Linked DNA regions of Homo sapiens: region 2 is linked to region 1. The links come from fine-mapping of genetic effects on gene expression. A gene starts in region 1. The other region holds a variant in brackets. All regions are shown on one strand. Distances are between the middles of the regions. Region 1 holds the start of RUSC2 (RUN and SH3 domain containing 2). Region 2 has its middle 20 kb from the start of CIMIP2B.

Region 1 (5,374 bases):
CCAATTCTCTCTTTACCTCCCACTCATTCTTCAAAATTCAGCTCACACCACTTCTGTGAAGCCTGAAGACAAGCTACATATCCTGACATTTATCTGCTTCCTTGACTGTGACCCCAGTCTCTAACTCTTTCAGTGAGTATGGAACCTAGAACAGAGTCTTCTATTTTTTTTTTTGAGACAGAGTCTTGCTCTGTTGCCCAGGCTGGAGTGCAATGGCGCAATCTCAGCTCACTGCAACCTCCGCCTCCCAGGTTCAAGTGATTCTCCTTCCTCAGCCTCCCGAGTAGCTGGGATTACAGGCATGCGCCACCACACCCGGCTGATTTTTGTATTTTGAGTAGAGACGGGGTTTTACCATGCTAGTGGTCTCAAACTCCTGACCTCAGGTGATCCGCCCGCCTCAGCCTCCCAAAGTGCTGGGATTACAGGCGTGAGCCACCGCGTCTAGCCTAAGAGTCTTCTCAATGGGTGATATGGTTTTGTTAGTGGTGGAAGAGGTCTGAGTTACCCCAAGTTACCTGCAGCCTATCCTTATGGGTCTGTAGCAACTTTAGTCCTTGCTTCATCAGAAGAAAGAATTCGACTGTGGGGCAGAAAGCAGAAAAAGAGACCAAGGCAAGTTCCAGAGTAGGAATGGAAGTTTATTTAAAAAGGCCTTAGAACAGGAAAGAAAGGAAGGTGCGCTTGGAAGAAACCCAAGCGGGCACGTGAAGGTTAAAGAGAGAAGGTCAAGTGCCTAACCAAGATCCTAGGACTTTTACAGGCTGGCCTCTTTCCCATGATTCTTCCCTTAGAGTGGGCTTCCCGAATGCGCAGTGCTTTCCTTCCCGTTTTCCGGTGGAGGGTGCCCCCAGGAGATCATACGTCACCATTTTTGTCTCTTAACACGCATGCCCAGAAAGTTGCTTCTCCCTGAGGCCTGCATTCAATTAGCATTTTGATGTTAACATGTGTGGACCATCAGGAAATGGCCTCTCCCTGGCCCAGCCGAATTATCCTTTTTAAAGAAGCAATGAGGTAATTATGGAACTGTCACTGGTAGAGGGTCTGACTGCAAGTTGTCCAGGTTCTTGGCGTTTTGAACAAAGAATTGGACAAAACGCCCAGCAAAGCAAAGAAAGAATGAAGGAACAAAAGAAGGAAAGCAGGGATGTATTGAAAACGAAAGCACACTCCACAGTGTGGGAGCAGCCGGAGCAGCGGCTCAAGGGCCAGGAAACAGAATCTTCTTGGGTCCAAATACCCCCTAGAAGTTACCCGCCACTTCATGCTCACCTCATGTAAATGAATTCGTAGCCTGCAATCAGTCTGATTGGTTGCAGAAAGCAGCCAAGCAGAGGCTGAAGTGAAGTTACAAAGGTCGCACACCTGTGCAAACATCTGATTGGTTGCAAGAAGCAACCAATCAGAGGCTAGGGTGAAGTTACAAAGTTATACTTCTATGCAAAGTTAGACTCGGCTGCAGTCAGTCTAATTGGTTGCAGATAGCCAATTTCCCATCTGCTGGGCAGAAAAGTTGGGTGGGGGGTTTGTTACTTAGGTGTGGAAAGTTAGGGTTTTCCTTTCAATTTAGTTCCAGGAAGTTGGCATGAACCAGTCTTAGGTTCCCTGCCTCCAGTCCCTATTCTCCTGCCTCAGAACCATCACCCAACATCCCTAGTGGGTAGCAGGGGAGAACCCTCTCCTGCCCCGCTCATGCCTAACTACCTGTAACAGTTTGGCTGTGTCCCCACCCAAAATCTCATCTTGAATTGTAATTCCCATAATCCCCCTGTGTCAAGGGCGGGAACAGGTGGAGGTAATTGGATGATGGGGCTGGTTTCCCCTGCGCCCTTCTCGTGACAGTGAGTGAGTCCCACAAGATCTGATGATTTTATAAGCGTCTGGCATTTCCCTTGCCTGCACTCACTCTGTCCTGCCACCCTGCGAAAAGGATGGCTACTTCTTTGCCTTTTGCCATGATTATAAGCTTCCTGAGGCCTCGCCAACAATGCGGAACTGTGAGTCAGACCTCTTTCCTTCATAGTATTTCTTCATAGCAGTGTCAGAACGGACTAATACAGTGGGTTTCCCATAACATTTGCAGGACTGCCTGCCCCATCCCCCTCTGGCTGTAAACAGCAGGAGTCACACACAGGCATCTTCCATGTCCCCCACACATCCGGCCCTGAAGGGCAGGGGGCGCATGGGTTCTACGTTTCATCAGGGGTTCCGAACCCTGGCTATGCACTGGAGGCCAACCCCACCTCACCCCACCCCACTCCACCCCAGTGGTTCTGAGTCGGTCCAGTGTGAGGTCAGCCCTCCTTCTGTTGTTTGGTTAGTTTCCACACTAGGTTCTACTGGGAAGCCAGCGTTGAGAACCGCCGCCTCAGGCGAAGCTGGGACTCACACCCACCGGCCCTGGAGGCCCGCGGAAGGTTTCCCTGGGTTCCAGCACCCGGGAGCCGCGCGTCGCCAGGCACCACCCCGCGGGGGCGGGCGCGGGCCGCAGAAGATTGGGCCACGGCGGAAGCCTCTCCGCTCCCTTAGCGGGAAAGCTCTGCGCGTGACTCGGCTGCGCCCATCGCTGCGGGAGCCGGGGAGGGGGCGAGCACCTTAGGCCGGGCGGACCGAACCAACGCGCCGCCCGGAGGGGCGGCCTGAGGGCAACCCAGATCGGACCATCGCGCCACGCCGACAGGGGCCGGCCTTTCCAACCCGCCCGGAGGGAGGGGCCGCCGGCGCCTCTAGCCTGCAACGCGACCCCTGGAGGGCGAGACACGCCGCCGCCGCCGCCGCCGCCGGCGCGGAAGGACGAGGCTGAGGCGAGAAACGAGGTAGGAACGCCTCTCCGGAGGCGGGCAGGGTCCCACAGACCCACTGCCCCGCGTTCCAAGGTCTCCCTTAGGGGAGGGCCTGTCTTCCCACCTATGTGCCTTCAGCGCCTGCCCTTCCCTTCAGCCCTTCCCCCTCGGCTGCACCCGCCCTCTGCGTCCGCCCCGACCCCCTGGGCAGACCTCGTCCCCAGCCCTTCTGACCCTTGGCCTTCTCCTGACCCTTCAGCTCTGCGTCCACCGGACCTTCAAACACCCAGCACCCACCGTCCCTTTGGGCGCCACCCCAGATGCATCCCCAACCGTCTCCTCAAACTGCCCCCTTGGGGACACCCTCCCCCCACAAAACGACTCGCGCCCAGTAGTCACCTTGGTACCCCAAGTCCCTGTGACGGCTTTGGGGAAGCGTGGCCGCCCGGCACCCAGGCCGGCGACTGCAGCGGGGGCCTCCCTACTGCCAGTTCCCGGCCGGGTCCTCTGCTCCCTCCACCCTTTTAGCCCCTGCCTCCCTTTATTATCCGCCCGGCGCCGGCGTTGCTTCAGTCTCTGTCTCTCTGTCATCCAGTTTTACCTGGAGAAAACCTTTGGCTTGGCAGTAACCGTCCCCTACTACTGCACTCACTTGCCGCGAAGGGCACGGTGATCCTGTTGCCCACAGTTGGCTGTGGCCCTCCAGGCCGGCCCTGCGGACACGGGGAACTGTCCTGGGGGCAAGGACGGTACACTACTCATCTTTGTATCCCCGGTCCCCAGCACGGTGCCTGGCACATGGTAGTGTTGCTGGTGGAGGGTCTTCACTACCAGTTGTCCTTTGCGTTTTGAACAAGTAATTGAGCAGCGGAGGAATGAAACGCAGGAACAAGTAGATCTGAGTCAGGCAAGGATTACCACTATGTGAACAGTGTCCGTGATAAAGAACACAGGCCTTAAAAAAAAAAAAAAGGCGGAATTTACAAAGGACAAAGGGCCTGAAACCTGTTTTTATTTATTCCTAGGTGGGTGACCTGAGCAGATTTAGTTTCCTGGGGGTTTGGGTTCCACGCGGAAGCAGGTGGTATCGCTGAGGGATGAAACAATGGCTGGAAAGCTGTAGGAGTTGATAAGGTAGAAAGTAGTTACCTAATTAGTAGTGGCATTATTGTAACTGGGGCTCAAAGTATTAGCAAATAAAAGTAGTGACTGGATTTTCTTAGCCGGCTCCTTAGATATTAAGCAGTGGTGGATGGCTTAATGGAAGGAAGAGCAGATCCAAACAGTATACCTGGTATTCTGTTAGTTATGCCCGTCCTGCTGTATGGCCAGCCACTGTTTCTCTTCTGTTTTGAGCCAGGTTAGGATCCCTCTGATTTCTGTGCTGGTATTTAAGATTCCTTTTTGAAGCCACAGTTGCCTTAACTGGAGGCTGGACATGTTCTCATTCATCCATTGCTAGTTTTGATGTATCCTTTTCCGCTTTCTGTCTCCCACCCTCTTACATGTCTTTATAAAGTCTTGGATCAGGCCAGGCACAGTGGCTCAGCCTGTAATCCCGGCACTTTGGGAGGCCCAGGTGGGCGGATCACTAGAGGTCAGAAGTTCAAGATCAGCCTGGCCAACATGGTGAAACCCCATCTCTACTAAAAATACAAAAATTACCGGGCATGGTGGTGTGCACATGTAGTCCCAGCAACTCAGGAGGCTGAAGTCCCAGCAACTCAGGAGGCTGAGGCAGGAGAACCCCTTGAACCTGGGAGGCAGATGTTGCAGTGAGCTGAGATCATGCCACTGCACTCCAGCCTGGGTGACAGAGCAATGCTCTGTCTCAAAATAAAGCCTTGGATCATAGAAACCCAGTGTGGGGAGGGGCTCCTGATCTGGATGGATTAAGCAATACAATTTTTTTTTAACAGTATCTTTTTAATGGCCTTTTCTACTTTTTCCTGTCTAGGCTTCCTGTTAAGACCTCAGTTACCCCAGAACACCCTGGGTTATTTTTCTCCTCACCTCCAATACTTCAGTGTTGCCAGATAAAACGCAGAGTGCCCAGTTAAATTTGAATTTCAAATAAACAACAGGGAGTCCTGTATTTTTACTTGCTAAATCTGGCAAGTTCATGGGAGGGCTTATGTGTTCTATTTTTCTCTCTGGGCTTATCTGCAAATTTAGGATAATAACTCACCCTTTTCTTCCTGTTACTCATACACAATGACTATGCACCCTGCTAAAAGTCACTTGACTGAAGAGATGGTTCACTTCATGTTAGGGTAAGGGCAGGCTATCTAGAAATGGTCTTGATTGATCAGTGTTGAAGTTACCCAGGAAAAAAAAAAAACACCCATTCAGACATTGGCATTTAATATAATTTTTGTCAAATGAGTCCGTCATACGAAACGAGAGCATCATTTTGAGTAGCCAGATGTCAACATTGCTCTGATAGAGCTAGGTGATGGGGTAGAAGGGAATCCTAACAACAACAAAATAACTCAGCAGAACCTGTGCTGTACCATATTTACTCTTTATGGTGGTAATATATATATATATAACATAGAATTTACCATTGTAATAATTCTTAAGTGGCA
Region 2 (5,374 bases), 94 kb after region 1:
GTCTCAGATGAGACTTTGGACTTGAACTTTTGGGTTAATGCTGGAATGAGTTAGGACTCTGGGGGACTATTGAGAAGGCATGATTGTGTTTCAAAATGTGAGAAGGACATGAGATTTGGGAGGGGCCAGGGCGGAATACTATGGTTTGGCTCTGTATCTCCACCCAAATCTCATATTGAATTATAATTTCCAATGTTGGGGGAGAAACACGGTTGAATCTTAGGGGCGGATTTCCCCCAGGCTGTTCTCACGATAGTGAGTTCTCATGAAATCTGATGATTTAAAAGTGTGTAGCACTTCCTCCCTCGCTCTCTCTCTCTCCTGCCATGTAAGATGTGCCTTACTTCCCCTTTGCCTTCTGCCATGATTGTAAGTTTCCTAAGGCTTCCCCAACCACGTGGAACTGTGAGTCAATTGAACTCTCTTCTTTACAATTACCCAGTCTCAGGTACTCTTTGTTTTGTTTTGTTTTGTTTTGGCAGAGTCTCACTCTGTTGCCCAGGCTAAAGTGCAGTGGTGCAATCTTGGCTCACTGTAACTCTTCTTCCCAGGTTCAAGTGATTCTTGTGCCTCAGCCACCTGAGTAGCTGGGATTACAGCCATGTGTTGGGAACTGGTCCCCAAATCTGGCCATAAACTGACCCCAAAACTGGCCATAAACAAAATCTCTGCAGCACTGTGACATGTTCGTGATGGCCATGATACCCACACTGAAGGTTGTGGATTTACTGGAATGAAGGCAAGGAACACCTAGCCCACACAGGGCAGAAAACTGCTTAAAGGTGTTCCTAAACCACAAGCAATAGCATGAGCGATCCGTGCCTTAAGGACATGTTGCTGCTGCAGATAACTAGCCAGAGCCCATTCCTTTGTTTCGGCCCATCCCTTTGTTTCCTGTAAGGAATACTTTTAGTTAATCTATAATCTATAGAAATAATGCTTATCACTGGCTTGCTGTCAATAAATATGTGGGTCAAACTCTGTTTGGGGCTCTCAGCTCTGCAGGCTGTTGAGTCCCCTGATTTCCCACTCCACACTACATATTTCTGTGTGTGTGTCTTTAATTCCTCCAGCACGGCTGGGTTAGGGTCTCCACGACGGAGCTGGTCTCAGCAAGTGGGGCTCGAACCCAGATCGAAGGGTTGCCGGAGCAATGGTTGGAGAATGTGGAACTAAGCTGGAGGACACCCAAGTACTCTTAAGCAATCCCTGTAGTGAGTAAGAAGGGGAGCTCAGAAGCATCAGGGTAACAATGGGACAAGTGTGGGCTCTGGTTCGTCCCACCTTGGAACCTTTTCACACTGATGATGAGGAGGAAGGAGAGTATAACAAAGTAACAGAAAAGGTAACAGAGCAGGTTTGTTTGCCAGCTAAAGCTAAAGAGGCAAAGGAGGAAGAGTTCATCCCTACCTTTCTGCACTCCCTCCTTATTTTGAAGAAAAAGAGCAGCCTGACCCTCCAGATCTTTCTTTTACGGAGGACACTGGGCGAAAAGTAGTTGCCCCAGTGACTGTTCGAGCAGCTCTTCGAGTGACTGCTGTCAGTTCTATTCAGGCAGGAATCCAGCAAGCTAGAAGAGAGGGTGATATAGGCCGGAACTGGTGGCTCACACCTGTAATCCCAGCACTTTGGGAGGCTGAGGTGGGCGGATCACGAGGTCAGGAGATCGAGACCATCCTGGCTAACACAGTGAAACCCCGTCTCTACTAAAAATACAAAAAAAATTAGCCGGGCATGGTGGCGGGCTCCTGTAGTCCCAGCTACTGGGGAGGCTGAGGCAGGAGAACGGCATGAACCTGGGAGGCAGAGCTTGCAGTGAGCAGAGATCGTGCCACTGCACTCCAGCCTGTGTGACAGAGTGAGACCCGTTTCAAAAAAAAAAAAAAAGAAAGAAAAGGAGAGGGTGATATAGAGGCTTGGCAGTTCCCTGTTAGGATATACCCCCCAGATCAACAGAGAAATATTATAGCTATATTTGAGGCTTTTCTCTTTAAATTACTTAAAGAGTTTAAACAGGCTATCAGTATGAACCAGGTATATGCCTGAAGTGTAAAAAAGGAAAACATTGGGCCAATCAGCATCATTCTAAATTTGATAAGGATGGAAACCCAATTTCGGGAAATGCCATGAGGGGCCCGTTCAGGGCCCGTCCCAGGCCCGTTCCAAACCGGGGCATTTCCGGCTCAGGCCATTCCCTCACCCCTATACAATGTCTGTCCCCTGCCACAGCCGGTAGTGCCGCAGTAGATTTATGCTGCACAAAAGCTGTGGAGCCTTCTGCCTGGGGAACCTCTGCAAAAAAGTTCCAACAGGGGTCTGTGGACCCTTGCCAGCTGGGACAATAGGATTACTTCTAGACAGGTCTAGTTTAAATTTAAAAGGAGTGCAAGTACAAACAGGAGTCACTGATTCACATTACAATGGGGAAATTCACGTTGTTATATCTACTTCTGTTCCCTGGAAAGCAGAGCCAGGACAGCATATAACACAACTCCTGATTGTGCCATATGTAGAAATGGGGAAAAGTGAAATTAAATGAACAGGAGGATTTGGAAGCACAAATAAACAAGGCAAAGCAGTTTATTGGGTGAATCAAATTACTGATAAACATCCTACCTGTGAAATAACTATTCAGGGAAAGAAATTTAAAGGTTTGGTAGATACAGGAGTGGACGTTTCAATCATTTATCTACAGCACTGGCCGTCCACGTGGCCAATTCAACCCGCTCAATTTAACATAGTTGGAGTTGGTAAAGCCCCTGAAGTATATTAAAGTAGTTATATTTTGCATTGTGAAGGGCCCAATGGACAACCTGGACTATTCAACCAATTATAACTTCTGTACCTATAAATTTATTACAACAATGGGGAGCACAAGTTCTAATTCCAGAACAATTATACAGCCCTCAAAGTCAACATATGATGCATAAAATGGGGTATGTTCCTGGTACGGGACTAGGAAAAAATTTGCAAAGTTCGAAGGAACCGCTTCAAG[C/T]GGAAAGACAAATTTCCCACCAAGGTTTAAGATTATTATTTTTGATGGCGGCCATTTTTAAGCCTCCAGAACCTATACCTTTAAAATGGTTAATGAATAAGCCAATTTGGATAGAACAATGGCCACTGAGTAAAGAGAAACTGGAGGCTTTAGAGGACTTAGTTACTGAACAATTAGAAAAAGAACACATAGCTCCAACATTTTCCCCTTGGAATTCTCCAGTTTTCATAATTAAGAAAAAATCAGGTAAATGGAGAATGTTAACTGACTTAAGGGCCATTAATTCAATTATACAACCTATGGGGACATTACAGCCAGGACTGCCTTCTCCTGCTATGATTCCAAAAAACTGGTCTTTAATAGTCATAGATTTAAAAGACTGTTTCTTTACTATCCCCTTAGCTAAGCAAGACTGAATGGTTTGCATTTACAATTCTTGCAGTAAACAACCTGCAGCCTGCTAAGCATTTTCATTAGAAAGTGTTGCCTCAAGGCATGTTGAACAGTCCAACAATTTGCCAGACTTATGTAAGACAAGCAATTGAACCGACTCGTAAAAAATTTCCACAGTGTTACATTACTCATTGTATAGAAGATATAATTTGTGCTGCCCCCACTCGAGAAATATTACTCCAATGTTATGATCACTTGCAAAACTTGATTTTTCCTGCCAGTTTAATTATAGCCCCTGACAAATTTCAGACTACTACTCCTTACTCCTACTTGGGGACCTTAGTAAATGACACTACAATTGTGCCACAGAAAGTAACCATACGTAGAGATCAATTGAAAACATTAAATGACTTTCAAAAATGACTAAAGACCATTAATTGGACACAACCTGCTCTAGGCATTCCTACCTATGCCATGAGTAATCTATTTTCTATCCTTAGAGGAGATCTTAGTCTCACTAGCCCTCAACAATTAACAAAGGAGGCTGAGGCAGAGTTACAGCTGATTAAAAAGCAAGTCCATAAGGCCTACCCGGAAAAATCTCACTGCCTCTCCCCAGACTATTACTTGTTAGATGGAACTCTCCCCCACTTAATGGGTTCCACCTGAACCCCCTCACTGCTATTATGTGGACCTGGAAAGTTGGGTATCTATACTTCTAGTGCACTAATGATTCTATCTTTGGCACCCAGTGTTGTGTTAATGACACAAAAGCCAAGTTTCCTGCAATGCTCTGATCCAGCCTTAGTTGCCAAGTTCCCAATGCCACAGCAAAGTAAATGGGATAGAACTTGTAAGCAATGAGACCATCTATGGTTCCTTCCCCTGGATCAGAACATACAGGAGAAAAAAAAAAAGGAACACATGGGAGAAAAACAACTATTTAGTCTGGGAAGGTGGGAGTACCTCCTCCCCTTTTGGAAAACAAAGATTGTTCAACCACCCCAATTAGAACAGGGAAAAATATCTCTATAGACACAACTTGGCAGCAAAGGGTAGGCATCGCACCCCGTAGGGACCCTGTTTGTGCTCCAACTGGGCTTGTTTTTGTTTGTGGCCATGAGTGGGAAGAAGTCATGCCCTGTAACCACTCCTGACTCCCTGGGGAGTCACCTGTTCTTTTAAGAATAGCTTTCCCTTGTATATCAAAAACATGAAACAGAGGTGACTGTATGTTGGCCACCCTTTCCCCTCCAGGAGTCACACAGTCTATAACCCCGTAAGACCCAAGAACACCAGAAATAAATGAGCAATAGTGTTACTGGTTGAGGGTAGTTGTCCAGGTTCTTGGCGTTTTGAACAAATAATCAGACAAAACACACAAAGCAAGGCAGTAAAAGCAGAAACTTATTTTAAGTAAAAGCACACCCCATAGGGTAGGAGTGGGCTCAAGCAAGTGGCTCAAGAGCATCAGTTACAGAATTTTCTGGGGTTTAAATACCCTCTAGAGACCAGGCGTGGTGGCTCACACCTGTAATCTCAGCACTTTGGGAGGCCAAGGCGAGTGGATCACCTGAGGTCAGGAGTTCCAGACAAGCCTGACCAACATGGTAAAACCCCATCTCTACTAAAAATACAAAATTAGCTGGGTGTGGTGGTGCATGCCTGTAATCCCAGCTACTCGGGAGGCTGAGGCAGGAGAACTGCTTGAACCTGGGATGCAGAGGTTGCAGTGGGCCAAGATCACACCACTGAACTCCAGCCTGGGCAACAAGAGCAAACCTCCGTCTCAAAAACAAAATAACACAAAACAAAAAACTACAAGTTTGGAAAACATATTGGAGGGAATAATTGAGGAAAACTTCCCTGGCCTTGCTAGAGATCTAGACATCCAAATACAATAAGCTCAAGGAATACCTGGGAAATTCATCGCATGAAGACTATCACCTAGGCACATAGTCATCAGGTTATCTAAAGTCAAGACAA

The links. PIP is the estimated chance that this variant, and not a neighbour inherited with it, causes the effect.
Region 2: its variant is the best candidate, but not a certain one, in a credible set for the expression of RUSC2 in whole blood (INTERVAL, PIP 0.55).

The regions. Positions count from the first base shown.
Region 1 is chr9:35,487,354-35,492,727 of GRCh38, forward strand. It overlaps RUSC2 (RUN and SH3 domain containing 2), which reads left to right and starts at 2,758. Exons shown (of 12, transcript NM_014806.5): 1 at 2,758-2,819. It overlaps LOC105376026 (a long non-coding RNA gene), which reads right to left and starts at 4,274. Exons shown (of 2, transcript XR_929580.4): 1 at 4,078-4,274; 2 at 3,766-3,903. RefSeq lists a silencer at 2,427-2,726.
Region 2 is chr9:35,581,369-35,586,742 of GRCh38, forward strand. No RefSeq gene overlaps it. Among named protein-coding and RNA genes, the nearest start is that of CIMIP2B, 20 kb to the left of the region's middle. The variant C/T (reference allele first, on the strand shown) is at 2,996.